4 separate regions of the Homo sapiens genome follow, and regions 1, 2 and 3 are each reported to be linked to region 4. The links are microRNA targets in miRTarBase. Many come from high-throughput screens and were not tested one by one. Region 4 holds a microRNA gene; each other region holds the end of a gene's coding sequence. Distances are from middle to middle.
What was found. The annotated mature microRNA hsa-miR-6799-5p reads GGGGAGGUGUGCAGGGCUGG and lies in region 4 at 2,154-2,173, shown strand. An mRNA with a match to its seed (bases 2 to 7 or 8) in the 3' UTR can be bound and repressed. Matches are read on the target gene's strand: a 7mer-m8 pairs with bases 2 to 8, a 7mer-A1 pairs with bases 2 to 7 and ends in A, and an 8mer does both.

Region 1: miRTarBase lists MTA1 as a target of hsa-miR-6799-5p. Seed matches in the 3' UTR shown: 7mer-m8 at 5,913-5,919.
Region 2: the mRNA of INAFM1 is a reported target of hsa-miR-6799-5p. Seed matches in the 3' UTR shown: 7mer-m8 at 1,306-1,312.
Region 3: miRTarBase lists PLEKHG3 as a target of hsa-miR-6799-5p. Seed matches in the 3' UTR shown: 7mer-A1 at 4,998-5,004, 7mer-A1 at 4,965-4,971, 7mer-A1 at 4,829-4,835, 7mer-A1 at 3,330-3,336, 8mer at 3,160-3,167 and 7mer-m8 at 338-344.

Annotation. Positions count from the first base shown.
Region 1 is chr14:105,469,122-105,476,231 of GRCh38, reverse strand. It overlaps MTA1 (metastasis associated 1), which reads right to left. Exons shown (of 21, transcript NM_004689.4): 19 at 6,734-6,765; 20 at 6,240-6,391; 21 at 5,503-6,167. The coding sequence ends at 6,017. CRIP2 (cysteine rich protein 2) reads right to left here and starts at 1,411. Exons shown (of 8, transcript NM_001312.4): 1 at 1,327-1,411. The coding sequence starts at 1,369. RefSeq lists silencers at 1,389-1,498, 1,679-1,748, 2,019-2,168, 2,259-2,348, 2,359-2,408 and enhancers at 2,437-2,969, 4,525-5,388.
Region 2 is chr19:47,274,342-47,281,451 of GRCh38, forward strand. It overlaps INAFM1 (InaF motif containing 1), which reads left to right and starts at 544. Exons shown (of 1, transcript NM_178511.6): 1 at 544-1,382. The coding sequence starts at 579. The coding sequence ends at 1,007. It also overlaps a transcript of CCDC9 not described here. RefSeq lists silencers at 1-105, 466-915 and a cis regulatory region at 4,055-4,192.
Region 3 is chr14:64,742,755-64,749,864 of GRCh38, reverse strand. It overlaps PLEKHG3 (pleckstrin homology and RhoGEF domain containing G3), which reads right to left. Exons shown (of 17, transcript NM_001308147.2): 17 at 1-6,883. The coding sequence ends at 6,162. SPTB (spectrin beta, erythrocytic) reads left to right here. Exons shown (of 36, transcript NM_001355436.2): 35 at 169-211; 36 at 392-3,582. The coding sequence ends at 559. Among named protein-coding and RNA genes, the nearest start is that of MIR7855, 39 kb to the left of the region's middle.
Region 4 is chr19:49,789,718-49,796,827 of GRCh38, forward strand. It overlaps MIR6799 (microRNA 6799), which reads left to right and starts at 2,149; the gene lies at 2,149-2,217. It overlaps AP2A1 (adaptor related protein complex 2 subunit alpha 1), which reads left to right. Exons shown (of 23, transcript NM_130787.3): 5 at 2,218-2,347; 6 at 3,274-3,375; 7 at 5,913-6,021.

The sequences.
Region 1 (7,110 bases), not on the chromosome of region 4:
CTGGAGAGCCCCAGGCTGGCCTGGCCCGGCCTGGGGTAAAGTCATGGGCAGTTGGACTGCAGAAGGGCCCTGGGGACCGTCTCCCACCCTAAGCCTTACAGAGACAGCCCTCGCTGGGACAGAGACTGAGGGCTGAGCGGGCTCCAGGAGAGGCAGCCGGAAGCCCCTCGGCTCCCAGCCACGCCAGAAGCACTCCAGGCCAAATCCGGTCCCTCCCCTCTGGGACGGGCAAAATACAACCTCCCCTCAACCCCCTCCAGCCTGTGAGCCGGGGAAGCCCAGTGGCGGCCTTCCCTGCAGCCTGGCCGCATTCTGGGTATGGGGCGACCAGGGCAGGCGCCCTGTTGGTCCCGGCCCTCCTCTCTGCTTCACTAAGTCTGCCCCCCTTCGTGCAGCAGCTGGTGGGTAGGTGGGCAGGGACCTTACCACCCTGGAGAAAGCTGGGCAGCGAATCAGCCAGGAGGAAGGGGGTAGGAAGGGCGCACCCAGGCCCAGAGAGTGAGTAAGCCCAGACGGGGGGAGCGCGCCTGCCGGAGGGGCTAGACCGAGGGCCGCCTTGCGAGACATCCCTCTTCCCGCCACCACCTGCATCCTGTCCAGGGCTGTTCTGACCTTGAGGAGGCAGGGATCCTGGACACCTGGGCTGCTTGAGCACAAGGTCCCTCTCACGTTCGCGGGAACTCGCGTGTCACACCCGCCCCCACCCTACCCCCGTGTGAAACTCCTGGGGGAACTGGCGCCAAGGGAATGCGTCGGGACAAGCAGGAGGCAGAGGCCAAGGTCGCCCCCGCTTGGACTGAATCCCGACAGAGTCCAAACCTGGCCCAGCCCAGCTCAGCGGAGCCCGGAGTGGGAGCTGGGGGTCACTGTTCCCGGCCACTTGTTCCCGGGGGAAGCGGGTGTAGGGGGTCCAGGAGAAAGGGCCCAGGCCCACGGGAGCGCGCGGGACGCACCCGGGGCGTACAGCCACGCCCTGCCCCGCCCCGCCCGGCGCCGTCCGAGGAACCGGGATGCGTCCGCGGATCCCCGAGCGCTCCCCCAAACACTGGCCTCATCCCGGGGCACCACAAGCCCCGCCCGGGTGGTCCCTGCCCCGCCCCCACAAGCCGCTTCGGGGTTCGGGCGTGACCGCCCCCGCTTTCGCGCAGCCCCACCCTTTGGCTTTAGCCGCTTGGGCAGCGCGGCCAGCCAGCCTCCGGGACGCGCATCCTCGGTCCGGGGCCGGGGCCGGGCGCACCCCGAGTTACGCCGCGGCTCTGCGGCGCGGGACTGGCCGCGAAGGGCGGCGGGATGCACCGAGCGGGCCGGGAGCGGGCACGCACTCACCGAAGTACACGGTCTTGTCGCACTTGGGGCATTTGGAGGCCATGGTCGGTGCGCCCGGTCGGCCCGCGCCCTCCGCCCGTTCTCCTCCGGGCCGCCGCCGCCCGCGCCCAGCCCCGCCTGCCCGGCTGTCCGCGCGCCCATTGGCTCCGCGGCCGGGGCGGGGCCTCGATAACCCGTCCCCCGGGCTGGGGGCCGCCTGGGGGCGCCGCGGGGGCGGGGCGCACCTGCCGGGGGTGGCGGGTGCGGGGCAGCCGGGCCAGGCCTGGCGCCCCCGGGCCCCTCGCGCCGGAGGTGGCGTCTACAGGGGCCCGCCCGGGCGACCGCGGCGCCGCCCGCGCCCCGGCTGTTTCCATGGCGACGTCGGGGCCGCCTGGCCGGGCCGTCCCCGGGGCGGCGGGCAGGGTGCGGGGAGCCTGGCCCTCGGCTCTCGGGGAGCCCTAGTGACTTGGGCCTAGGGGTCCAACACTCCCGGCCCTGGGCGCCCAGGCTGCGCTCCGCCGCGGGAAGGGGTCGCAGGCTCCGGGAGAACCCCACCCCCACCCCGCCGCGCGCGGCGCCTGTCCCGCTTCCCTTTGTTGCTCGGTTTCCATAGCAACAGCCGCGCCGCGGGAGCGGAGTCAGATTCCCGGCGGGCACGGCCCCCAGCCCTGTCCGGGTCTCCATGTCCCGCTCCGCCCCCGCCCGCGCCCCGCCCCAACACTGTCTGTGGTGCTGAAGGCTCCTTGGGTGGAGGGCAGGGCTCAGGAAGGAAGGCGCCGCCACCTCCAGAAACAGCTCGAGAAGCTGCTGGTAGGGGGTGTGGGGAGGTCTGCGTCTGCCTCCCAGGCAGGGAAGGGGCGGCGGGCACCAGCGCCGAGGGATCCGCGCTTAAGGCGTCCACCCCAAGCACTTCCACCCAGGGGGCGGCCGGGGAGGCGGTGAGGAGTTAGGAAGGGAAGGAGGGGAAGGAGTGGGCGTGCCCTCTGTGCCCCGGGCTGGGGCTGACACTCCAGTCCCTTCTCCCGCACCGCCCAGGACCAGCTGCGTGCCTGGGGGCCCAGGGCCTGACCTCGAGGGGTCAGGCGGGAGATTGAGGGGTCATGCCAGTCACCGCACCCCCACACCCCCACTCTGGCCTCCTCCCAACCAGGGCGTGCCTGACCACGCCTCACCACAGTGCCTCCGCCCTAGAGCCCCGTAGAGCCTGGCCCCAGGTGGGGAACCTCCGCACCCACGGGCTTCCTGGTGCTCTGTCCCCATGGGCCCTTCTCTGAGCCTTCTGGCCCCAGCTGAGCGTCGGCCTGGGAGACAGGCAGATCCCAGAAGCCCAGTGATCAGGCCCTATGGGGGCAGCTGACTCTGGACACCCTTCCCCCTGTGTCTTGGAGGCTGTGGGCTGGACACGGAGACCTACCTGTTCCCTCTGCCTGGTGCACCAGGCATGTTTGTGAGCCAACCAGAGGCCCTCGGTGCTCCTGGCTTTCATGGTGGTCCTGGCTGGGCTCTCTGTGGCAGCACCCTCCTCCCTTGCACACACACCCTGCAGCCACTGCCATTTCCATGGTGACAGCAGGCCAGAAACATGCCCCCCGCCCCCCCGCCCGACTGACCAGCCTGACCAGCTCCCCCTCTGCACTTGGGACCTGTGCCAGCCAAGGCAGAAGATGGTGAGGAGGCATCAGTCAGTACCTTTTCTGGGCAGCCCTTCCTCCCTGGCAGGCCCAGGGGTCCCTAGGGGTCCCTCACAGCAGGGCCTTGCCCAGGCTGGATTCATGGGCCCACTGCCAAACCCTCTCCAGCTCCCTGCCCTGTTCTGCCCAGCTTGGGAGCCTGGGGCTAAGCCATTACCCTCCCTGACTTTGCTACCTGTGGGGCTTGCTACCTGTGGGGCTTGCTCTGGAGGACAGGGCTGGCTGAACACAGGGCTCTTCTGGAGGGAGACCACCTGCCCCAAGGTCCCCAGCCCTGCCAGAAGAGTGGATGGGGGTAGAGGCAGGCCCCTCCCAGGGTGGCAGCAAAGGAATGGCATTCGGCACTGGCCAGGTGCCCTGGAGACACACGGAGGGTGGGGTGGGACAAGGAGTGTGCCAGCTGCTGCACTGCCCTCACCCCAGCCGCAGTCCCTGGGCAGCGGCCAGAAGCTCCCTAATGCGACGGGGCTATTCTGGGCCTGGCAGGCAGGGGTCAGGATCAATGGGTGCAGAGCAGTGGCCTTGGTCTCCACCTCTGAGGCTGCGGTGGGTCACAGGCAGGGGCAGTGACACAGTGGGACGGGCCCGAGTGGAGAGGGGGGCACAGGACACGGCGGGTGTGAAGGGAGCTGGCAGGGCTGATGGCTGGGCATGGGGCTGGGTCACACCCCTGGGCTGCAGTGGTCTGGTCCCTTCCGCCATCCTGTGACACTGGCAGATAGCAGGCCCCTGCTACTCAGCTCCACTGCAGGGAAGCCAGGCTGGGCTGAGTGGTGGACAGAGGACCCTAGCAGGGTGGAGCGGAGCTGGCAGGACAGGTCTCCAGGCATGACAGCATGATGGCCTTGCCACCCTGAGATGCCCCTGGCCCTGGGGAGCCGCGGCCCCTGTGGGGTTGCTGGTGCAGAAAGCAGGCTGCTGTCTCATCAGCAGGGAAGGGCCTAACGAGGACATAGCAAAGCTGGGAGACCCCTTCATGGCCTGGGCACCAAGGCCAATGCTCCCCCCAGCCGGTACCCACTCACTTCTAAGCCCAGGTTTAGACCCACAAGCAGCCCAGGCCCCACCCAGCACCGGTGGCCAGAGCTTGGCCCTGTGAGGGCACTGCAGCCTGGGTGTCTGGCCGGGGAGGGTGTCTGGGGTGGGAAAGGGCCCCACATCTCCTCAGGGCCTCCCTGCCCTTGGGATAGAGCCCAGGACCTAGGACACCTCACAGCCCACATGTTGACTCCAGAAAAGGACAGGCCCTGGGGGGTGGAAGAGCTGCTGAGGCCAGAACCCTGCAGCCAGCACTGGGAGGCAAGCCCGAGGCCTGGGGAAGGGAGACAAGGGAGCTGGGGTCTTCACTGAGCTCCAGACCCCCAGGGTTGGAAAAGGCCTCAGAGGGAGCTGTGTCCTTCATGAGGTCAGGGGCCTGATTTCCCAGCCGTCTGATGACGCACTACAGGCAAGTCCTCAGGCTGTGGGGTCACTCGGATGCTGGCTGCAGATTAGAGTTGGCTGGTGGGGGCTGGGGTTGGGTGGGGGGGCGCCACAGCCCAGGGAGGGTGGGTGGGACGTGCACTGCAGCCGAGTCCCTGACACCTAGTCCTGTCACTGCTGGGCCCCAGCACAGGCTCCCACGGAGGCCAGGACGCCCCCTTATCTTTGTCTCCTGGGAGACAGCAGAAGTGGTTTCTATTTTAATTCCGTGGCTGAGATTTCCACATGACAGGGCGCCTGGGTGGGCTGGGGGAGCAAAGGCACAGCTCTGGGGAGAGACAGAGGAGCTACTCTCCCTGAGCGAGGCCTGGGCGGACCCCTCCTGGCCGGCTGAGGTAGCACGGCCAGGGGGGTGGTCTGGAGCCAGGCTATCCACCGGACCCCTCCTTCTGGTGGCCCGGCCTGTACCTGTCCCCCGGCCTGCAAGTCCTGTCCCCGGCCGGAGGATGGGCCAAGCAGGATTTCTGAGAATGTGCTTGCAGAAATCTAAGCAGATTCTCACTGTGGAGACTGCACACCTGCTTGGGGGCCAGAGCTCTGGGCAGAAACCCTCAGGCGGCTGGGGCCAGGCTCTACATGGCCAGGAGGTTGGGCCTCTGGCTGGAGCACTCCAAGGCCTCGCTGGCCCAGCTGCACTGGCTGCCCTGGTGGGAAGCCACAGGGTCTTCGGCAGGGCCAGCTCTGCCTGCCGGGAGGCAGTCCCCGGCCCACCGCTGCCGCAGACACAGACGCACAGACGGTTTCAGCACAGCTCTGCTGGGGAAGGGGGTTGGGCCCTGCAACCGCTTGCTGCCCCCTGGGGAGGGCAGAGGGCACCGCGCCAGGCCCCAGCAGGGGAAGGTCTGTGGGCAGGTGGGAGAGCAACAGAGCCCAGAGGCTGGGGTGGCTGTCCTGGCTGAGGTGGCCTCCAGGGGCCTCCAGCTCCACGGCAGAGCCACAGCCTAGGGCCGCCCGATGGGGGTGGGGGGCCCAGGGCCTGAGTCAGGGAGAGGGACTGGGAACAAAAGACACAGGGAAGGACCGGTTGGTTTTTTTCCTTTTTATAAGATTTTTTTTCTTTGTTTTTGTTTAATATGAAAATTACTTGAAAAGACAAGGGCCAACCCCGCCAGGCAGCTCGGCCGGCCGCGGCCGCACGATCCTAACATTCCAGGTGTAAGTTACAGAGCTCAAGTTCATCTACAAAAAAAGTAATAAAAATAAAATTTAAAATGGCACCTTCAACAGAACACAACAAAACCTTAGGGCCCGGCCTCCGGGCAAAAGGCCCCGCAGCACAGGGGCACGGGGTGGCCCCTCATCTCCGCTCCAGCCAAAAAGTAAACACAAAGCTAAAAACGACAACTCCTCGGCATTCTCGGAATAAGTTAGCCGCGCTTCTTCCTCTCCTCCCCCAGTGTCCGCCAAGGAGCGCGTTTCTCTGCAGGTGAGGGCGGGAGGTGGGGCACTACCAAACTGAGGGGCGGGCGGCGGGCTGGCTGGGAAGGGGCCGTGTGGGCGGGCGAGGGGCGGGGGGCGGCCGCAGGTGGGGGCGGCCCCTAGTCCTCGATGACGATGGGCTCGTCGTTGACGGGCGCAGGTGGCGGTGGCCGCGGCGGCAGGGCCTGGCTCTGGCGCAGGGCGATGGGCTTGTAGGGCCGGCGGGCAGCACGCTTGGTTTCCGAGGATGAGAGCAGCTTGCGGATCTTCCTGTGGGCAGAGGTGGTGGTGAGGGCCGGGACGCTGTGCGGAGCCCTCCCGCCTGCCCTGGGAAGGCCCCACCTGGTCTCCTCTGTGGCCATGTAGAACACGTCATCCGGGGCGTCGATCCAGTTCATCCGCCGCCGCTTGACTGGGGGCAGGGAGCCCCCCCGGATCAGGCGCACTTTGGTGGGGTAGGACTTCCCGTTGAGCAGGAGGTTCCGGCTTGGTCCCTGCAGAGGGGGTGCACTTCCTGGGCAGCCAGCCAAGGGCCAGCTCCACCTCAACCTGCAGGGCTCCCGCTGGGAGGTGCTGTGCCTGGCCAACCCCCCACCACCCCAGTGAGTTACACGGACCCCCAGCCTGGCCCAGGGCAGCCCTGAGGGCTGGTCGGCCGCACACCGCTGGGCCTGGCACAGGGGCCATGGCCCCCACATGCTGCAGCCCCTCTGGTCTTGCCAGGCCTCCTGGAAGCTTCCACGTGGCACCTGGCAGGGCTGGCCAGGCCTCTTCCCAACACCCCAGAGAGCTCATGGGTGAGCGCACCGTACCCCATCATGGGTTGTTCCTCTTACCATGTGCCTGGCCTGTCCGTGGTTTGCCAGACCTGATGAGAAATGGAGGAGAGAAATGAGGCCCCGAGAGAGCGCGTCCTGCACTCCCACCGCCCACCACGGCCTCAGCCACCTTGGGACAATGGGCCGGGGCCATCTGCCAACCAAGCCACAGCCCACACCCAGGATGGGCCTGGGGGACGTGGGGCCTCGCATCCCCGGGTCCTGGGCCGCCTGGTGGCCCCACAGCTCTCTGGCCAGCAAGAGACACATTGGCTTGGGCTCCAGGCAGGAGGCCAGGAGCCTTGGACCCGACAGTCACCTCCCTGCACAGGGGCCGGGGCTGTCCACCCACTTGCCTGCCGTGCCGAGACAAGCAAAGCCTCGCAAGGCTGTCA
Region 2 (7,110 bases), 2.5 Mb from region 4:
CTGGCCATGGGCATGGGGCGGGGCCGTCAGCGGGGGCGTGGTCGGGGTGTCGCGCGGGAACCCGCGCGGGAGGAGAGCGGGGATTCCGGAACTAGAGTGTGGGAGCCAGAGGCCGTAGCGGGCAGGGCTCGAGCACTGGAGTAGAGCAGTCCGACAGGTAGAGAAGTGAGACTGGCTGCGGCACAGGGCGGGTTAGGGCTCCAGGCAGGGCTTGAGCGGGACGAGGGGGCGGGCTCCGAGGCGGGCTAGATGCCTGGGCTGGATGAAGTCCGAGTCTGGGAAGAGAACCGTGTTGTGGCGGGAGGAGGCGGTGATTGGGGTGGTGGGGCTAAGCGCGGGGGCGGGGCTGGAGCGAGGGGGGCGGGGTAGCACCTCCGCCTGTCGGTGGTGGGGCGGAGGCTGGAGGGGGTGGGCCTAGGATGCGGAGGCGGCAGCTCGCGTGGGGGCGTGACCATGCTGGCGGGGGCGGGGCCGGAGGCGGGCGGTTTAGAGAGCGGGGCGGTCTGCGGGGTGGGGGCGGGGCCTGGTGGGGGCGGGGCCTGTGCGGTCTGCGGCGCGGAGCCGAGTGGGCTGCGGGGATGCGGGGGACCAGCTGCGTGGGCGGCGGCGCCGAGAGCCCCGGAGGCGCGGGGCTGAGCGAGGGCCCGCGGGGGCGCTGGCTGCGCTTGGCTCCGGTATGCGCCTACTTCCTCTGCGTCTCGCTAGCTGCCGTGCTGCTCGCCGTGTACTACGGTCTCATCTGGGTACCCACGCGGTCTCCCGCGGCACCCGCCGGCCCACAGCCCAGCGCGCCGTCCCCTCCGTGTGCTGCCCGCCCGGGCGTGCCGCCTGTCCCGGCGCCCGCCGCTGCCTCCCTCTCCTGCCTCCTGGGAGTCCCCGGCGGGCCGCGACCCCAGCTCCAGCTGCCGCTGAGCCGCCGCCGCCGCTACAGCGACCCTGACCGCCGTCCGAGCCGCCAGACACCCAGAGAGACGCCAGAGGCCGCGGAGGGGCGAAGACCCGGGTAACTCTCCCTTCCACCCCAACCCGGATCGCCAGCCCTCGAGAGCTCTGTGCTCCACGCCGAGGATGCACCGTCTCTGGATTGGTCCGGCCTTCTTCCTAATGACATCGCTCAGCGTCTCTGGAGCCGTCATCCCGCGGAATGGGGGCCCAGGGGGTGTCAGCTCGGGGCCTTGCCTCTTGCAGCTACTCTGTGGTCAGGCCGGGTCCTCCACCATCAGGAAGATCCCATCCTGAGCTCTGTCTCCTGCCCCTCCTGCTGTGGGATGCTGAGCACAGAGCCCACAGCCCATCTGCCTCTTCACCTCCCTGAATCCGTGTCCATCTGCAATAAACGACAGCCTCGGCTGCCTCGTGCTGTGTCTGTCCTGTTGTCTGCAGAGATGCCTCCCCTCCCAAGTTTGTGTGGGAAAGACCTTCCTGGGGTGTGGCCTTTGTCTGTTTTGTCCCGGGTGGGCTGTTCCCCTTCCTTAAGGAGCTCTTCTTTTCTTGGAGTAGGGAGAAGCAGCTTAGCAGCAGCAGGGCCTTTGAAGGTCAGACAGTGGGAAGGGCTTCCCAGTTTTTTGTGTGCTTGGAGCAAAGGACAAATGTCTCTGGGGAGAAGCAGAGTGTCTGCCCTCGTGTTACAGCACAGGAGACAAGAGGAGGGGTGGGGTGATATAGGACAATAGCTGGGGTTCTGGGAATTGCTGTTGGTGTAATTATCATGTCAGGGACAGAGGCTGAATCACCCAGGGATCTCAGTTGGCTGCCGAGAGGGAACGATGCTGGCCCACTTCCTGGGGTCAGAGAGATGAGAGTGGATGGCGGCGGCGGTGGTGTTGCTTCTCAGCCTGTCTGGAAATCTCAGAGCCAATGACCAAAGCGCTGTGCTGCCTTGGAAGACTGGTGCAGCCTCTGGCCTGGGGCGCTGCTAGGAAACCAAGGCCGGGAAACTGAGGTCTAGCTTCTGGGCAAGGAGTCCGAGGTGGGGAGGCCATGTTCCATCCTGGAAGACTGAGGCCTGGCTCTGGACAGGGCCTGGGATCTGACATGCAGGAAGCTGGTTCCTGTCCAGCCTCCCCGCTTGAGCTGGAGGCCTTCCCAGGAGAGTGAGGCTGAGCATCTTCTCCCACGCTGTGGCTCCTGGAGATCTGTGGAGGTGGTTAGGAAGGTCAGCTGCTCTGCTCACCTCCCCTTTACCCCACCACCACTCCCCAGAGGGTGGTTGTGAAGGGGAATCTAGGAAGCCAGCACTTCTTTGTAGTCAGCATAGGTGATAGTTAGGGGCACTGACTGGGGCGAGACTACTCGGGTTCAAATTCCAGCTCCTCTCATTACAAACTGTGTGACTTTGGGCAGGTCACTTGACCTCTGTGTTTCTTTTTTTTTTTTTTTGAGATGGAGTCTTGCACTGTTGCCCAGGCTGGAGTGCAGTGGCATGATCTTGCTCACTGCAACCTCCGCCTTCTGGTTCAGGTGAGTCTCCTGCCTCAACCTCCTGAGTAGCTGGGATTACAGGTGCCCACCACCACACCCAGCTAATTTTTTTTTTGTATTTTTATTTTTTATTATTTTTATTTTGAGAGAAGTCTCACTCTTGTCCCCCACGCTTGAGTGCAATGGCTCGATCTCTGCTCACTGCAACCTCCACCTCCCAGGTTCAAACAATTCTCCTGTCTCTGCCTCTCAAGTAGCTGGGATTAAGGCCCCTGCCACCACGCCTGGCTAATTTTTGTATTTTTTAGTAGAGACGCGGTTTCACCATGTTGGCCAGGCTGGTCTCGAACTCCTGACCTCGTGATTTGCCCACTTGGGCCTCCCAAAATTCTGGGATTACAGGCATGAGCCACCACACCCGGCCTCTGTTTCTTTTTTTTTTTTTTCTTTTGAGACGGAGTCTTGCTCTGTCGCTCAGGCTGGAGTGCAGTGGTGCAATGTCGGCTCACTGCAAGCTCCGCCTCCTGGGTTCATGCCATTCTCCTGCTTCAGCCTCCTGAGTAGCTGGGATTACAGGCGCCCGCCACCACGCCTGGCTAATTTTTGTATTTTTAGTAGAGACGAGGTTTCATCATGTTGGTCAGGCTGGTCTCAAATTCCTGACCTAAGGTGATTTGCCCACTTTGGCCTCCCAAAGTGCTGGGATTACAGGCGTGAGCCACTGCACCCAGCCTTATAACTTATTTAAAATTTTTAAGCATTTTTTGTTTGTTTGTTTAATAGAAATGGGGTTTCACACTATGTTAGCCAGGCTGGTCTTGAACTCCTGGGCTTAAGTGATTTTCCTACCTTGGCTTCCCAAAGCCCTGGAATTATAGGCATGAGCCACTGTGCCTGGCCCTGCCTCTGTGGTTCTGTAGAATGAAGATGCTAATGGTACTTCTTCATAGACTTGCTCTGAGGAATAAATAAACTGGTGATCTCAAGCCCTGAGAACGATGTCACATGTTCTCTCTCTCCACCACCTCTGTCCCTCAGGGTTTAAAAGCCCCAGCTGGGATCCTCTGGGGATAGCAAGTCAGTCCAAAGCCCTGGCCACCAGCAAATGGTGAGTTTGAGGGAGGGGCCTCTCCATTTCGGTTCCCACTGGCCCCCCTCTCTTTGGTTTTCATCTCTCTTCTCCCAGCCCCATTTTTTCCTACTCTTTCGTTTCCTTGTTGCTGTGTGTCCTGGCTCTTTTCTCTTTCTGTGTTTGTCTCTCTGCGTCTCAGTCTTTCTGTGTCCTGTTTATCTCTCTGGTGTCTCTTGGTATTGTTTCTCTCTCCCACTCTGTATGTCTCTGACTCATTCTGCTCATTCTGTGTCCTCCCTATTGCTCTCTGTCCCCAGCTCGTTCTTTTTTTTTTTTTTTTTTTTTTAGATGGAGTCTTGCTCTATTACCCAGGCTGGAGTGCAGTGGCGGTGGGATTACAGGCGCCCACCACCATGCCCGTATAATTTTTGTATTTTTAATAGAGAGAGGGTTTCACCAGAGTGGCCAGGCTAGTCTTGAACTCCTGACCTCAAGTGAGCTTCCCGCCTCGGCCTCCCAAAGTGCTGGGATTACAGGCGTGAGACACTGTGCCCAGCCCCAGCTGATTCTCTTTCTTCTCTCCTCCACACTTATCTTACCCCAACACTTTCTTCCACCTTGCTCCCCTTCCCCTGCCCCCGCACCCCACAGCTTCCAGGTCCCTAGTCTCAGTGTCCCCTGTCTCCTTCCCTTTATCTCTTCCTTTTCTCCTCCTATTTCTCTTGGTTTCTCTTTTGGTCTCCATTGTTTAATCTTCCTTTTAACAAATATTTTTTGAGGCTGGGCACAGTGGTTCTTGCTTGTAATCTCAGCACTTTGGGAGGCCAAAGCCAGAGGATCACTTGAGGCCAGAAGTTAGAGACCAGTCTGTGTAACACAGCAAGACTTCATCTGGACAAAAAATTAAAAAATTAGCTGGGTGTGGTGGTGCATGCCTGTAGTCCCAACTACTCAGGAGGCTGAGAGGAGAGGATTGCTTGAGTCCAGGAGGTCGAGGCTGCAGTGAGCTATGATTGCACTACTTCACTCCAGCCTGGGAAACAGCAAGATCCTGTCTCTAAAAAACTAAAAAAACAACCCACCCAAAACCCACAATTATTTTTTGAGCATCTGCTGTGTGCCAAAGCTTATTTTAAACACTGGAGACACAGGAGTGAATAAAACAGGCAAAAATTCCTGCTCTCGGCTGGGCGTGATGGCTCATGCCTGTAACCCCAGCACTTTGGGAGGCCAAAGCAGGAGGATCACTTGAGGTCATGAGTTTGCGACCATCCTGAACAACATAGTGAGATCCTGTCTCTACAAAAAATACAAAAATTAGCCGGGCATGGTGGTGCATGCCTTGTAGTCCCAGCTACTCGGGAGGCTGAGGTGAGAGGATTGCTTGGAGGTCAAGGTTGCAGTGAGCTGTGACTGTACCACCGCACTCCAGCCTGGGCAAGAGAGCAAGACCCTGTCTCAAAAAAAAAAAAATTCCTGCTCTCAATGGAACTGAATATTAGTGGGAACACAGACAAGAAATTCAGTTAATAGCCGGGTGCGGTGGCTCATGCCTGTAATCCCAGCACTTTGAGAGACCTAGGAGGGCGGATCACCTGAAGTCAGGAGTTCCAGACCAGCCTGGCCAACATGGTGAAACCCCGTCTCTACTAAAAATACAAAAATTAGTTGGGCGTGGTGGTGGGTGCCTGTAATCACATCTACTTGGGAGGCTGAGGCAGGAGAATTGCTTGAATCCAGGATGGGGAAGTTGCAGTGAGCCAAGGTTGCACCACTACATTCCAGCCTGGGTGACAGAGTGAGACTCTGTCTCAAAGAAAAAAAAAAAAAATTCCTGTTCTTAATGGAACTAAATATTAGCGGGGACAAAGACAAGAAATGTGATTCATAACTTTGAGTGAAAGCAGGGTAAGGGTGATGGGGATGATGGAGGGTGTGGTTACTGGGTAGAAGCCCAAGACTGGTGAGGGTGAGGCTGGCAGGTCTCTGGGGGCTGAGGGAACAGTAAGTGCAAAAACCTTCGGGGTGGTGTGCCTGGCTTGTTGAAGGAATAGCGAAGAGGCCAGAGTGGCTGAAGCAAGAGGGAGTGGGGAGAGCAAGAGGAGGAGGTGAGGCAAGAGAGGACAGGCAGCTTGATCAGGGCCTCATGGACCACAGAATGCAATTTTTTTTTTTTTTTTGAGACAGTCTTACTCTGTCACCTAGGCTGGAGTGCAGTGGCGCGATCTCGGCTCACTGCAACCTTCATCTCCCTGGTTCAAGTGATTCTCTCGAGTCTCAGCCTCCTGAGTAGTTGGGATTTCAGGCACGTGCCACCACACCCAGGTAATTTTTGTATTTTTAGTAGAGACAGGGTTTCGCCATGTTGCTAAAGCTGGTCTCAAACTCCTAACCTCAAGTGATCCACCCGCCTCAGCCTCCCAGAGTGCGGGGATTGCAGGCGTGAGCCACTGTGCCCGGCCACAATGTGCACTTTGGATGAGGTGGGAGCCATGGGAGGCTTCTGAGGTGAGGAGGGTGTGCGCTGATTCAGATCTCAAGACCTTCTGACTGCGATGTGGAGAATGGACTGCAGGGGGCGATGGTGGAAGCCAGGAGCCCAATGAGGACACCACCGCCCTGGTTCAGGTGAGAGACCATGGTGGCTGTGCTAGAGTGTTGGCTGGGGAGGAGGGGAGAAGTGGTCAAAAATCCGTGTGTGGGCTGGGTGCAGAGGCTCACACCTGCGATCACCTCCCAGCACCCTGGGAGGCCAAGGCAGGAATATCACTTGGGCCCAGGCGTTCAAGCCCAACCTGGGCAACATAGTGAGACCCCGTCTCTACAAAATAAAAATAAACTTTTTTTTTTAAAATGAAAAAAGTAAAAGCAAGGCATGGTGGCTCATACCTGCAATCCCAGCATTTTGGGAGGCTGAGGCTGGAGAAATGTTTGAGCTCAGGAGTTCAAGACTAGCCTGGGCAACATAGCGAGACCCCATCTGTACACTAAATAAAAAATCAGCCAGGCGTGATGGCTTGTGCCTGTAGTCCCAGCTATTCTGGAGGCTGAGGCAGGAGGATTGCTTGAGTTAAGGAGTTGAGGCTGCAGTGAGCTGTGATTGTATCACTGCACTCCAGTCTGGGTGACAGAGTGAGACCTTGTCTCAAAAAAAAAAAAGTGTGTGTGTTGTGTGTGTATACTGATAAAAATACACATAGCATAAAGGTTACCATTTTAATCATCTTACCATCTTTTTTTTTTTTTTTGAGACAGAGTCTTGCTCTGCCACCCAGGCTGGAGTGCAGTGGGGCGATCTCTGCTCACTGCAACCTCCACCTCCCAGGTTCAAGTGATTCTCCTGCCTCAGCCTCCTAAGTAGCTGGGATTACAGGTATGTGCCACCATGCCCGGTTAATTTTTGTATTTTTAGTAGAGACGAGGCTTCACCATATTGGCCAGGCTGGTCTCAAACTCCTGACCTCAGGTGATCCACTGCCTCGGCCTCCCAAAGTGCTGGGATTACAGGCATGAGCCACTGTGCCTGGCCCATTTTAACTGCTTTAAAGTGCACAGTTTCGTGGCACTAAGTACATTTACAGTGTTGTGCAACCATCACCACCATTCATCTTTAAAAT
Region 3 (7,110 bases), not on the chromosome of region 4:
TTCAAATCAAAGAGGCTGATGGTCCAGACTTTGACCTCTCAGAAAGTGCTGGGCTGCCTGAGAGGGGTCTGGATGTTCGGCTCAGGGTATTGTGGGATCAGAGCCAGCCCTCTGCCCAGCGCCCCCTCCAGAGGTGTCTCCATGACAGGAAACCCTTTGTCCTCCTAGGCTGAGTAATGGCAGCGAGTGGCTCTTCCATGGCAAGGATGAGGTAAGCGCGGGCAGCCTAGCCCAGACCTGGCTAAGAAGGGGGTAGGTGGAGGACCCCAGGCCGCTTGCCCTGGAGGCCCCCTCAGAAGGGGCAGTCCCAAGAGCCCCCACCATTGTTGCCTGGCCCGGGAGGTGGGGGGCTGTGGGCCTCCAGACTCCACCGTGACCCTCCGCCCCGCAGGAGGAGATGCTGTCCTGGCTGCAGGGCGTGAGCACCGCCATCAACGAGTCCCAGAGCATCCGCGTCAAGGCGCAGAGCCTGCCCCTGCCTTCCCTCTCCGGCCCCGACGCCAGCCTCGGCAAGAAAGACAAGGAGAAGAGATTCAGCTTCTTCCCCAAAAAGAAGTAGCAGGTGGGGCTGGCGGGCGCGGCGGAGTCGGGACGCGCAGAGACCGGGCAGCCCAGGCCTTGGCCTCCTCTCGCCGCCGCCCGCCGGTCGAATCGAGATGAGTCGAGTCGCGGGCCGGGCCCCCGGGCCCCACGCTGCACTGCAAAAGCTGCCTTCGCCCGCGTGTCCTGGGCCGACGCCCCCTCCATGCCCTCGCCCGCGCTGGCTCCGCTCCAGGGACAGGGGCTCCCAGCTCCTCTGGCGCCTTTGGGGCCTCCAGGCCTGGGGGCAGGAAACGGTTCTCTGAGGCACACGCCCTCCTCTCCCACCCTCCTCCTGAGCCGAGGGGGCACAGGCCCCTTACCCCCAACCAAAAAAAAAAAAAAAAAAGAGCTGGAGAAGGCTGATGGGGTTCTTCAAACGCTGCCCGTTCCTAAAGCAAGTCTTGCTTCGGGTCACCTCCCACCTGGTGGCAGCCAGGGAAAGGGGAAAGGAAGAAGACACTGGAAATGCATGGCCAGCCCCCTAGGGGCATGAGGAAGGAGCCTTCAGGTGGCCCACAAAGCCCTAGCTCTGGGCCAGGGGCTCTGGGGGGCTGAGGGGACCAGACTGGGTGCAGGGCCTTGGGAGCTGCCAGCCTCCTTCCCACTGGGCTTCCGCAGAACTGGGACTCTCACTTCAGGGGCCACCACATCCCTCCTCTCTGCTTCTCCCCCCAGATCAAAGGGTACCCTCCCACGGTTGGCAGGGCCTGGCTGAGTGCCTCTAGCACCCTTTGTGCCACCACAGGCGGTCCCAGGAAGGGCAGCAAGGTCAGACCATTCCTCATTGAAAACCGTGGCTAGGGCACAGGGCTCTGATCTGAAGGAGTGACAGGTGCGTCACAACACTGCCTAAGGCTCTCCCTCTCAATGCTGGGACCCTCGCCCCACTCCCAGTGGCAGCCAAACCAGCAATATCCAACAGACATAGGCCCCCTACGGGACAGTGTGGGCCCCCAGATATAAGATGGATACCCCCCGCACCTGCAGTAAAGCATCCCAAAGCCAAATGCTCAATTGCATCCTGTCTGCAGCTGGGACTTTGGAGGGTAATGGCTGGGCAGACAGTAAAGTTGATCATCTGTTTTCTCGGGGTGGCAGACGCAGCCATGTCTTGGTATCACCACCCATGTGACAGCTACTCCTGCACAACTGGGACAAATGTCAGGGCCAGAGCCATGAAGGTGTGGTACCCCTTGATCAGCTTCTCCACGTCCTGGCCCCAGGTCTTGGCGGGGAGGGGGTCACATGAGTACAGAGGTCAAATATCTACCACCCTCCAGCCCTGAGCACCAGAAGCTCTGCAACCAACGTCCCCAGGAATGGCCTTCCCCTTGCTGCTCAGGTCATACTTCTGGAGGAAGAGAAAGCTCATTCCATATTTTCCCCACCACTCTACTCCGAAAGCAACACAGTTCTGGCCCAGTATCAAACTAGGGTTAGGTCCAAGAGAGCAGTCAAGCGGGTCGGGGGTGGGGGGGAGGGCGGAGGGCAGCAGGCATTTTCCCCCAAGGAAACCATGAAAGTCCCCAGGGCCTGCAGTCAAGTTTCTATCACCTTCCCCGTGAGAAGGACCTTAGTTCCATGGAGATGAAGTGGGTGAGGTTCAGGTAGAAGCCACAGGGGCAGGCATCCAGAATGAGGCCCCCTGAGGAACCCTGAGTGCTGACCAGTGCCGGCAGAAATCAGTTCCACCCTGTGGCCCTGACACTATATGTCAGGGTGACACCAACTGCAGCAGGCAGGAGCCACAGGAAGGAAGACGTCATCCGATGGAGCCTGACATCCCCAGGTTCCCGCCCTGGTGAGCAAGGTCTTCATTTGGCTTTGGTACATATGACCCTATACAGGGAACCTAGTGTGTATCACTCACCAGCCTCTTTCTGTATCTGGGGAAACCAAGGCAGTGAGGTGACTGCACTCACCTAGCAATAAAGTAGGCCTTTGGTGCACTTGCAGGCATGTCCTCCTCTGGGGCAGAGAGCAGGTTCCTTGCTGAAGGGCAGATGGTGGCAAACATCTCCCTCAACTGTTTCCCTGGGCCAGTCTTTAGGGAGCCTAGGGACAAGGGCCCACCCTCCCCCTTCCACGTGTGCCAAATCAGCACCTGAAGTGAGGCATTTCCAGCAAGCAACTCCACAGACCCGAGAAAGGAAGGGCTCTAGTGGAAGAGCTAGCATCTCACCACCCCAGGTCCCCTGGCCTGGTCCAGGGCAGCCAGCTGCATGTGACCATTCTGTTGCCAGCTCCCCACACATCCCTCCTGTCACCCAGGCTCCAAGACATTCGACCAACTAGACTGAAAATGCAGGCATCCAGCTTTGGGAGACCCTGTGTGTGCCACACCAGGGCTAAGCTCTCCCAGTGCCCTAGCAAGGTCTTTTTTTTTTTTTCTCTCCTTATTCTACTCTACAGTCTTTTGACAGTATTCCCAAACGAGGTTGACACAGCTCCAGTCCACACCAGCATACCAGGCTTCCTTCCCAGGGCAGTTTAGAGGAAGCTCCTTCTGGGCAAGGTCAGGCGGTCCTCCTTCCCTCTCTCCTTCCCCTTTGTCCCAGCCTCAACTGACTCTGGCTGTGGGAGGTGTGGAGGGTCCTTAGGCTTCCCTCCCCAACCTGGCCTCCACCAACACCCCTAACAGGAGGCCCGTGGAAGGCTCAGCCTCTCCTCCGCATCCCTCCTCCTTCCTGCCTATCGGAGGGAGCCAGGGTCCCCTAGGCTGACCCTGAATCCTCTTCCTCCCTTCATGGGAGGGGGGCAGGAATCCAGAGGAGGATGAAGCCAGCGGGACCACATGGCTTGGTGGCTTGGACAAACAAGCTCAGGGAGGAAATGAGGAGGCGGCGGCTGCAGAGGAATGCAACCCTGTTGGGCACAGACCATGCAATCTGGGGCTGGCCCTGGGGCCAGCTGGGTCCTGTCCTCCACCTGCTCAACCGTGCTTCCACCAACCAGAGGAAACCCATTTACTAGTTTTTCTAATAAATCAATAATGCTCCATGTTTCTCTCAGTTTCTTATTTAACTAGCCTCCTCTCCCTTTGAACTGAGCCTAAGAGGGCTGGCACCATGGAGACAGAGGGACAGCCAGATTCTCTAGCTTGTCCCTGGGAGCCTTATGGGACGACTGCAAGCACCCGGTTCCTGGGCTTCATCACAAACTCCAAGAAAAGCTTGCTCATTCATGCATTTGATCAACTTGAAGGCCTACTGTAGGGCAAAATCATTTCCAAGCAGTGATCAGTCCAGGCCCCTCCCCACAGAGCTCAGGACAGATCTCAGCACTCACTGGACCGCAGAATCATCAGAATCTCTAAGCCTGGGATTCACCTCCAGAGGGCAGTTTCTGTTGGTCTAGGGAGATGGAATGTAAGCACTGCGTTTCCAGAAGGCTCCCCAGATAATTCCAATGGGCAGCCAGTGAGAACCACCGACCTGGTGCAAGGTTCCCAGGCATACCTAGATGGCCGTGTAAGGACTGCCTGGGGAAGGGGTTAACTACAACTTCCTGGGCCCCACCCTCTGAAGAGCCCCAGTCGGGTTCTTCAAGGGAAGATCAGAGGCTAGTGACAACCTCTCTTGAGCAGAAGCAGCGCAGGGCAGAGATAGCCCCTGGTCTGGCAGCTGCCCTGAATCTTCTGTGGTCATTCCACAGTCACTGGCTCCTGCCAGGCCAGTCTCAAGATATGATGCTGAGTAACCACAAGGGCACTGGACAGTGTGAGGGTCAGGGAGGCGGAGGTTGCAGTGAGCCAAGATTGCACCACTGCGCTCCAGCCTGGGCGACAGAGCAAGACTCCGTTTCAAGTGGGGGATAAAAAAGAATCTGGGTCCCTCTGATCTTCCCTTGACCTTGTTAGACTTAGCAGACCCATCTTCAGGTTGGGTCAGAAGGCCCACAGGGCCCTGACCCAGCAGCCCTGCTGAACACTTGTCAGGCAGCTCTACCACCCAGGCCCTGAAGCCTCTACCTCCCAGGCCCCAGCTAGAAAAAAAATTAAGCAAAATGAGTCTGGACCTCTGTGGAGAAAGGGCAGAAAACCCAACTGAAATAGGGAGGCATTCCTAACTCTTCTGAATCAAAGATACTTCTGAGAATGTGATAAAAAGGGAGGAATCATCCCAGAAAAATGCACTTGTACTCCTCATCCAATGTTGCAGACACCTTTAGGACATTTCTAGTCTCCGAGTTTAGAATCCTTACCTTCAGCCGCATGCAGTGGCTCACCCCTGTAATCCCAGCACTTTGGGAGGCCGAGGTGGGTGGATCACCTGAGGTCAGAAGTTCGAGACCAGCCTGGTCAACACGGCGAAACCCCGTCTCTACTAAAAATACAAAAAATTAGCTGGGTGTGGTGGCTCATGCCTGTAGTCCCAGCGACCTGGGAGGCTGAGACAACGAGAATTGCTTGAACCTGGGAGGCGGAGGTTGCAGTAAGCCAAGATCACGCCATTGCACTCCAGCCTGGGTGACAGAATAAGACTCTGTCTCAAAAAAAAAAAAAAAAAAAATCCTTGTCTTCTAGGATGTTTCCTGGGGACCGGAGAGAAACGCAAAAGGCACCAGATACTGGGAGCATCTGCTTATGAGAAAAACAGTCTATCCACCTCACCACCTCCCTTTTTCTTGGTCCAACTCTGGCCCTTGGGGAAAAGAGCAAAAGGCTGGCATGCGGGACCCCCTACCCTAGACAGGACAGCAGGCTGCTGCTAGACAGAGAAGCCCATGGGAGTCTAGGCAGCAGAAAGAAAAAGCCCGCCCTCACATCCTCCTGCCCCACCTCCCCCACCAGTACCCGGGTGCCTTATGTTTCATAAGCCCAAGTGACAATTGAGTGTGGAAGGAACAACCTCCATGTCTCCATCTCCCTAAGACATCCCTGGCCCATGAATAACCTTCCCTACCCCAGCCAAGCCTAGGAAGGAGTTCACACATAGTGGGTTGGTCAGCAGTGGTTATTGCACCATTGGCAAATAATGAAATGTGTGTACATCAGCGACAACCACAGGGTCAGCACAACAACCCTCAAAAGTACCTGAACTGAATCCACTTCATTCTTGACAGGAGGGGAATAAACAGGGGCCACACACTCACGCACACGCACATCATACCACAGAATGGAAAGCAATAAATTATTGGCTTCATTCCTGCCTGGACCCTAAGAAAAGGCACCGTTACAGAACAAAGCCTCTCCAGGCCACTGCCTGAGTCTCCTGGGGATGGGCTCCTCCATCTGGCTGTGGCCATGGCCAGCCAACGCTGGAGGCCTGAGCAGAGCTTCCTCTCTCTGGGAAGAAGTGAGCTTAAATATTTGGCTTCTTACCAGAGAACAACTATTTACAAGGGAAGCAGCCACACCGGCCTCACAGGTGAGTGGGAAATTGTCTCGAGCCCCAGTGGATGGCACAGGCAGGAGACCCCTGCACACGGGAGCATCCTTCCTGAAGGGCGGAGGGGATGGACTTTCCGCCCACCTGAGGGCCCTGGGCAGGGGCTCCATGAGCCCAGGCTTGAGGGGAAGGATGCCCAGGTTCTTCCCCAACCTCCAACATGACTCCTCCCTCCCCCAGGAGTCAGCATCAACCGACAGAGTTCAAGGCCTGGAACTTCTCTCTAAGGTTTCTCACTCTGCCCTGCTGGCTCGGGTCTGCCGGGTCCCTGGAACCCTCTTCCTTCGGCTGGCACTCTGCAGACTGCTGGAAGTCCTGAACCTGCCCCAGCAGGGCCACCGGTGAGCTTGGTCCCTGGCCACTGCTCTCCTCCAGCCCTGCAGTGGGGCTGGGAAGGGGTCCCTTCTCCATGACAATCACCCGCCGGTTGTCCTCCAGGGTGAGGTCTGCAGTGACATACAGGGTCTCGCCTCCATCCGGCTTGCTCTGGGGCAGAGGCCCAGGGGATTGGGCAGCCTCTCCGCCTCCCCGGCCCCTCTTGGTGCTCAGGCTGCGGCAGCGGCCCACCCTGCCCGACAGAGGTGGCTCTACCATGTTCTCCGGCACCGAGTGGCTCCTGTTGACGGGTGGGCCGCGGGGCCGGCCGCCCCCTGCTCGGCGTGCCTCATCGCGGGAGGCATACTTGGAGCAGAGCTCACGGACGTCGGGCCAGCTGAAGGTCTCTGTGGGGCTGAGGGGGCTCCGGGCGGAGGGCCGGCCCCCAGGCGAGGTGGTCCTCTGGCTGACAGCAGACGGGTTGAAGAAGAAACGCTGTGGTGACATCTCCCCAGCCGAGGAGGGCTTGGGAGGGCTGTGCTCCTGGGCCATCAGCTGCTCATAGTCAAATAGAGACAGCACCGGCTTCCTCTTACCTATGAGGAGAGAGCAAGCTGCCTGAAGCATGGGGCGGGAGGGCAGAGCTGCAAGGGGGTGCTCTGAGCAGGCCCCAACTCACTTTCCAGGCAAGGCTGGTTGTTGGGGTTTTGGGTGTGATGGGAGAAATCTCACTTACCATCCACAGCCTCTTTCATGAAGGGCCATAGGAAGAATGAAGAAAAGGCAGTGGAAAGGGGTCAGGAGTCAAAGGCAGAGGGGGAGA
Region 4 (7,110 bases):
GCCACCATGCCTGGCCCACCATCTTATTTCTTTCTCCCCAAAGCCGACAAGGCTCCTCATTTTCCTGAAGGGGAAACAGCCCATCAGAGAGGGTCAGTGGCTTACCCCCATCTGTGCCCCACAGTCACAACCTCATGCAGGCGTGTCTGACCCCAGAAGGTGCTCCCCTGGGATCCTCTTCTAGAACAACATCATGCTCCATGCTCTTTGCTGTGCTAGGAGCTGGGTTATGGTTGGGGCCTGGAGTCAGCCCTCTGAGATGGGCTGCCCGCTGGCTGCCAGGTTCTGTGCCAGGCAAGTGCTGACCCTGGTTTCCTGTGACTGCTGTGATGAATTACCACCAGCACAGCGGTGTCAAACACCGGTTCTGGATGTCGGAAGTCCAACATCCATCTCACGGGGCTAAAATCAAGGCGTGGGCAGGGCTCGTCCCTTCCGGGGGCCCTAGAGGAGAGGCCGCGTCCTTGCCTTCTCCAGCTCCTAGAGGCCACCTGCTTTCCTTGGCTCGTGGCCCCTTCCCCCATCCCCAAAGGCAGCAGTGTGGCATCTTCTCTCCTGCCTGACCTCTGTTCCATCCTCACATCATCTCTGACTCTGAACTGTATCTTTCCCTTATAAGGACCCTGTGATGACATTGGGTCCACCTGGATCACCCAGGATCCTCTCTCCATCTCATGATCCTTAACTTTATCATATCTGCAAAGTACCCCCACCCTTTTTTTTGTTTGGAGACAGGGTCTTGCTCTGCCACCCAGGCTGCAGCCTTCACCTCCCAGGCTAAAGCGATCCTCCCACCTCAGCCTGCCAAGTAGGTGGGTCTACAGGCATGCGCCACCACGCTTGGCTAATTCTCATATTTCTAGTAGAGATGGGGGTCTCACCATGTTGCCCAGGCTGGTCTCCAACTCTTGGGCTCAAGTGATTCTCCCACCTCAGCCTCCTAAAGTGCTGGGATTACAGGCGTGAGCCACCCTAACCCCCAGAACCTGTGAATATATTCCCTTGGATTCAAAAGAGCCTTGCAAAGTCTGTTCCCTCACAACAGGCAGAGGGACCCTTTAAAAACCTAAGCCAGATCAAAAATACACCCATTTTCTCAGTTTGTTGTGGAGAGAAGATAAACGTGTGAATCCACCCAGAGACCTGTGGGAGTGCTGGACAGGCCGAAGGGGTCCGGGGGCAGCTGTTCCTGCTGTCGTGTTAACATCACGCTGATTCTCTGCTCACCACCCACAGCGGCTTTCATCTCCCAATCGGTAAAAAGCCAAGTCCTCACTTCAGCCAACAAGGCCCTGCAGGGTCTGGCTCTCTGTTCCCTCCCTGTCCTATCTGCAGCCCTCCTGCCCCATGGCTCAGGCCGCAGCCTGCAGGCCTCCTTGCTGCTCCTCCTACACACGGGCTCCGCCTTCCTGATGGCCTTGGCACAGGCTGTTCCCTCTGCCTGGGATGTTCTGTTGCAGAGGATTTTCAGTCTTTCCTCCTTAAGTTACTCTGTTTTGTTTATTTTTAAATTTTTTTATTTATTTAGAGACAGCTCTAACTCTGTTGCCCAAGCTAGAGGGAGTGCAGTGGCACAGTCATGGTGCACTGCCGCCTCGACCTCCCAGTCTCGAGCAATCCTCCCACCTCACCCTCCCGAGTAGCTGGGATTACAAGCCTGCGCCACCACACCCAGCTAATTTTTGTATTTTTGAAGAGACTGGGTCTCACTGTCGCCCAGGCTGGTCTTGAATTCATGGCCTCAAGTGATCCTCCCACCTCGACCTCCCAAAGTGCTGGGATTATAGGCGTGAGCCACCATGCCCAGCCCTGACAGTATTTGATGTATGTGTTTTCGTGGTGCTGTCTGAAATGTAAGCCCTGTGAGGACAAGTGTTTGGACCACTTTATTCACCACTCTATCCATGGAGTGAACAGCAGTGCCTGGTACCCCATGGGCACCCAGTAGGTGCTTGGTGAATGAATGAAGGTGCAGAGCCAGGCTTGACATGTTCCTGAGCCCTGTGAGGTTACTGAGATGCAATCATTTTGCAGATGAAGACACTGAGTCCTGGTGGGCCGTGAGGTCAGCGCCAGACTGGATCCTGCGGCCGCCTGGCTGTCTGTCCCTCTCGCTGGCCTCGCACACCCTTCCTGGGAGGAACAGGAGAGGAGGGGAGGTGTGCAGGGCTGGGGTCACTGACTCTGCTTCCCCTGCCCTGCATGGTGTCCCCACAGGGACAGCATGGACAGTGTCAAGCAGAGTGCGGCCCTGTGCCTCCTTCGACTGTACAAGGCCTCGCCTGACCTGGTGCCCATGGGCGAGTGGACGGCGCGTGTGGTACACCTGCTCAATGACCAGCACATGGTGAGCCCCCAGCCCTCACACCCCCGGATACCCAGGGCTCCCACCTCAGCCCTGACCCCCCTGGATGCCCGGGGCTCCCACCTCAGCCCTCACACCCCCGGATACCCAGGGCTCCCACCTCAGCCCACGCACCCCCTGGATGCCCGGGGCTCCCACCTCAGCCCTCACGCCCCCGGATACCCAGGGCTCCCACCTCAGCCCTCACGCCCCCTGGATGCCCAGGGCTCCCACCTCAGCCCTCACGCCCCCGGATACCCAGGGCTCCCACCTCAGCCCTCACGCCCCCGGATACCCAGGGCTCCCACCTCAGCCCTCACGCCCCCTGGATGCCTGGGGCTCCCACCTCAGCCCTGATCCCCCTGGATTCCTGGAGCTTCCCCCTCGGCGCTGACGTTCACCAGACACCAGAAACCATGATCCAGTGTCCCCGGTACTCATTACCTGCCCAAGTGTCCAGAAACCCTCCCATCCCCATCTCTGACACTCCCCTGGCTGGCCAGGGATCCTGTCCAGTGACCCCCACACCCCTCACCAACCACCCAGTCCCTTAGAAAATCCCACTCTGTTTCTAATACCTGGAGATTCCCCCAACAGCGCCCATCACCTGCGCACCAGCGCAGAAACCTTGACTGTCCCACCCCCACAGTCCCAACCCTCTAGAGTCTCGCCCCTTCACTGCTCCTTACCCAGCTGCCTGGGGTCCTGCCAGGGACACCCCACACACCCAGGTCAGTGCTGGCCATGGCGCCCGAGGCCCCGTGGCCTCCTCACCCCACCCCTAAAGCACGCACAGTGACACATGTGCACACCCCTAAACCCCATCTTCCCGACTGCACACACATCCCGACCCTGTCCCGCTCCTGAGCCTCTGCTCTCAGGTACCACCTCCCCCAGGGGCCTGACTTGTCTCTCCTCTGCCCCTGCAGGGTGTGGTCACGGCCGCCGTCAGCCTCATCACCTGTCTCTGCAAGAAGAACCCAGATGACTTCAAGACGTGCGTCTCTCTGGCTGTGTCGCGCCTGAGCCGGGTGGGTGTGGCCTAGATATTGGCTGCTGGAGGTGGCCCTGGCATCCCTATGCCCTCTGACACCCCTCAGGCCCCCACTCTCCCTGAGAGGCAGCCCAGCCCAAGGTTTACAAACTCAGGCTCTGAGCTGGATTCATCCTGGCTCGGCCTCTTCCTGGCTGGGTGGCCCTGGACAAGTGGCTTCACCTCCCTGGCCTCAGCTGCCCCCTGTGTTCAGTGGGGATAATACCGGTGCCCACCTGGAGGCACAGAGCGCTGTGGATAGAGTGCTCAGAACAGGGCCTCGCGGGCCGAGCACCCCGGGAGCCAGCCGCCCTCATGACCTCCTCCCTCTCCCACTTCTCTCTCTGTCTCCCACTTTCCCTCTTCTGGCTTTGCCTCCCGCCTCTCTCTTTCCTGTGCAGCCTCTCACTCCTGCCTGGCGTCCCTCTCCCACCTTTGCTCCTGTCCTGCCCAGGAACATCCCCTGAGGCCTTGTGCATGCCAGGCTCCATGTCGGGTGACACCAGGGACACAGATGAGTCAGAACCAAGCTCTGCTCTTAAGGAGCTCCCTGTCCTTCTGGCAGGGAGGTGACTCAGTCACAGATTGTCAGAAAAGGGGTGACTCGTGCTATAATGGAGGTAGGATAGGTCACCCATAGGAGGCACTTAACACAGCCTGTGAGTCCACGAAGGCTTCCTGGGGGCGGCGATCCCAGAATTGAGACTTAGAATACACATGCGCATCTCCTGGGCAGTCAGGAAGAGGCCTGGATTCGCAGGCAAAGAGAAGAACACACCAGCTCGTGCATCCACTCATTGTTTCTTTTTTTTTTTTTTTTTTTTTTTTTTTGAGACGGAGTCTCGTTCTGTCCCCAGGCTGGAGTGCAGTGGCGCGATCTCGGCTCACTGCAAGCTCCCAGGTTCACGCCATTCTCCAGCCTTAGCCTCCCGAGTAGCTGGGACTACAGGCGCCTGCCACTATGCCCGGCTAATTTTTTGTATTTTTAGTAGAGACAGGGTTTCACCGTGTTAGCCAGGATGATCTCGATCTCCTGACCTCGTGATCCACCCGCCTCGGCCTCCTAAAGTGCTGGGATTACCGGCGTGAGCCACTGCGCCTGGCCCACTCATTGTTTCTTTCTCAGGTTTTTTTTTTTTTTGAGACAGGGTCTTGCTGTCGCCCAGGCTGGAGTGCAGTAGTGCAGCCATGGTTCACTGCAGCCTCTGGCTCCTAGGCTCAAGCGATCTCTCGCCTCAGCCTCCCGAGTAGCTGGGACTGCAGGTGCCTGGCTAATTTTTGTATTTTTTGTAGAGATCGGTCTTGCTTTGTCGCCCACACTGGTCTCAAACTCCTGGCTTCAAGTGATCCTCCCGCCTCAGCCTCCGAAAGTGCTGGGATTACAGGTGTGAGCCACTGCACTCAGCCTCAGTCATTGTTTCATTCATTCATCACACATCTGAGTACTGCAGTGTGCCAGGATGACAGTGAGGTAGGAACACAGACCAGCACGGAGGTGGGACAGAGCTTCCTGGAGAAGGGCTTTTCAAGGTTGAATAGGAGTTTGCAATGAGGAAAAAAAGTCACATGATCTTTCTTTTTTTTTGAGATGGAGTTTCGCTCTTATTGCCCAGGCTGGAGTGCAATGGCGTGATCTTGGCTCACTGCAACCTCTGCCTCCCGGGTTCAAGCAATTCTCCTGCCTCAGCCTCCCAAGTAGCATGGATCACAGGCATGTGCCACCACGCCCAGCTAATTTTTGTATTTTTAGTAGAGATGGGGTTTCACCATGTTGGTCAGGCTTGTCTTGAACTCCTGATCTCAGGTGATCCACCCACCTTGGCCTCCCAAAGTGCTGGGATTACAGGCGTGAGCCACTGCACCTGGCCATGATCTTTCAATCTTTCACTAATTCCCTGCCTCTTCCCCGAACCTCTTCCTATCTGACCTTGTATTAGGCCTAGGGACCCAAAAAAGGGTCAGACCCAATCCCTGCCCCTGAGTGGCTTCAAGCCTTGTAGGGGGACTACAGGAAACAGCCTCCAGGAGCCGGTGCGCTGTGTGCTCTGACGGAGGAAGCCTGGGGCATGGGAGGCTCAGAGCCGAGTGAGGAGGGGGCCCTGGGAAACTGTCACACAGAAGGGAACCAGCAGAGACCTTTCCTGCCCACCACACACCAGCATTACTTGGAAAGATCAACCAGCCGGGCTTAGTCCTAGTTTTGCCCCCATTCAGTGTGCCTGACGCTTCCTCGCTCCCTTCCCAGAGCCTCAGATTCCTGCTTCATAAAACCATTGCATTGGTCGGGCATGGTGGCTCATGCCTGTAACCCCAGGACATTGCGGGACTGAGGTGGGAGAATTGCTTGAGGCCATGAGTTCGAGACCAGCCTGGGCAACATAGTGAGACCCTGTCTCTACAAAAAAAACCCACTAACAAAACCATTAACACTGACAGCACTGCCCTTGGAAGGCACCATTTGCTCCACCCTGGCATGTGGACCCACGTGCCCCTCCCACCCCAGCCCCCAACTTATTTCTTGCTCTTCCCCGCCAGATCGTCTCCTCTGCCTCCACCGACCTCCAGGACTACACCTACTACTTCGTCCCAGCACCCTGGCTCTCGGTGAAGCTCCTGCGGCTGCTGCAGTGCTACCCGCCTCCAGGTAATGAACGCCGTGCACTCCCCAACCCGGGGTGGCCTGCTGCTGGCATCTGGGGGCCTCCTGCTCCACGGCGCACCAGGTGGGACTGGAGGGTCTGGGTCAGGATTTCTCTGAAGCTGGGGCGGTTCCTCTGTCCCCTTACGTGGCTGCACTCGGGGAGGCAAGCAGGCAGCCCGAGGCCCAGCGCCTACCCTGTGCAGCATCGTGGATCAGCCTCATAGCTGAGGTCCCTGCTACCCGGGCTCTCACTCCAGCCCTGTTGCGAGGGACTGTTAACTGTGCCTGTTTTATAGATGAGGAATCTGAGGCTTGGAGAGGGAGCTCCTGGCCCAGCGTCACTCACCCGGTCAGTGGGTGATTCCAGGCCGTGCTACCTGAATTACCATAGCCCTGTCAGGGGTTTTCACATCTGTTGGGAACCTTCCCCTACTGCTCACAGTCACAATAGCCAGTGTGTATGAAACTCCTGTAGTGAGCCAGGCACTGGGCAGGGGGCACCTGCACCTGCCGAACAGAGCTGGCAAGGAGGAACAGCCAGTGTGATATGCACACAGGGAAACTGAGGCTTGGAGGTGAGACATCACCATTCTAGGCAGTAAGTGGCAGTTGGCCCCCAGACTCTCTGCTCTAAACCCCTCCCTCTGCCACTGAGCTCCCCCGAGCTTCTGTCGCCTTGGCTGACTGACCTCATGGAGCAGTTTCTTCGGACCCTGTGCTGAGGGGCTTGGCACACAGTAGGTGCTAATGCACCAGTTCCCTCCATTCAGCCAGCATGTCCAGCACCTGCCAGGGGCCAGGGCTGATGTACACCACCAAATCTCTGGGTGTGCATGCCTGTCTGTGTGCATGCCTGCATGCGTGCATGCGTTCGCCTGTGTGTGTCGATACCTGCCCGTGTGCATGCATGTCTGCGTGCATCCCCTGTGTGTGGATGTGTCATTGTGTGTGCATCTGTATGTATGCGTGTCTGTGTCTATATGTGGCAGTGTTCATGGTATCTCTGTGTCCCTCTATGTGTGTACATGTGTATATATCAGTGTGTGCATCTACATGTGTACCTGTGCATGCAAGTGGATGTGTACATGAGTG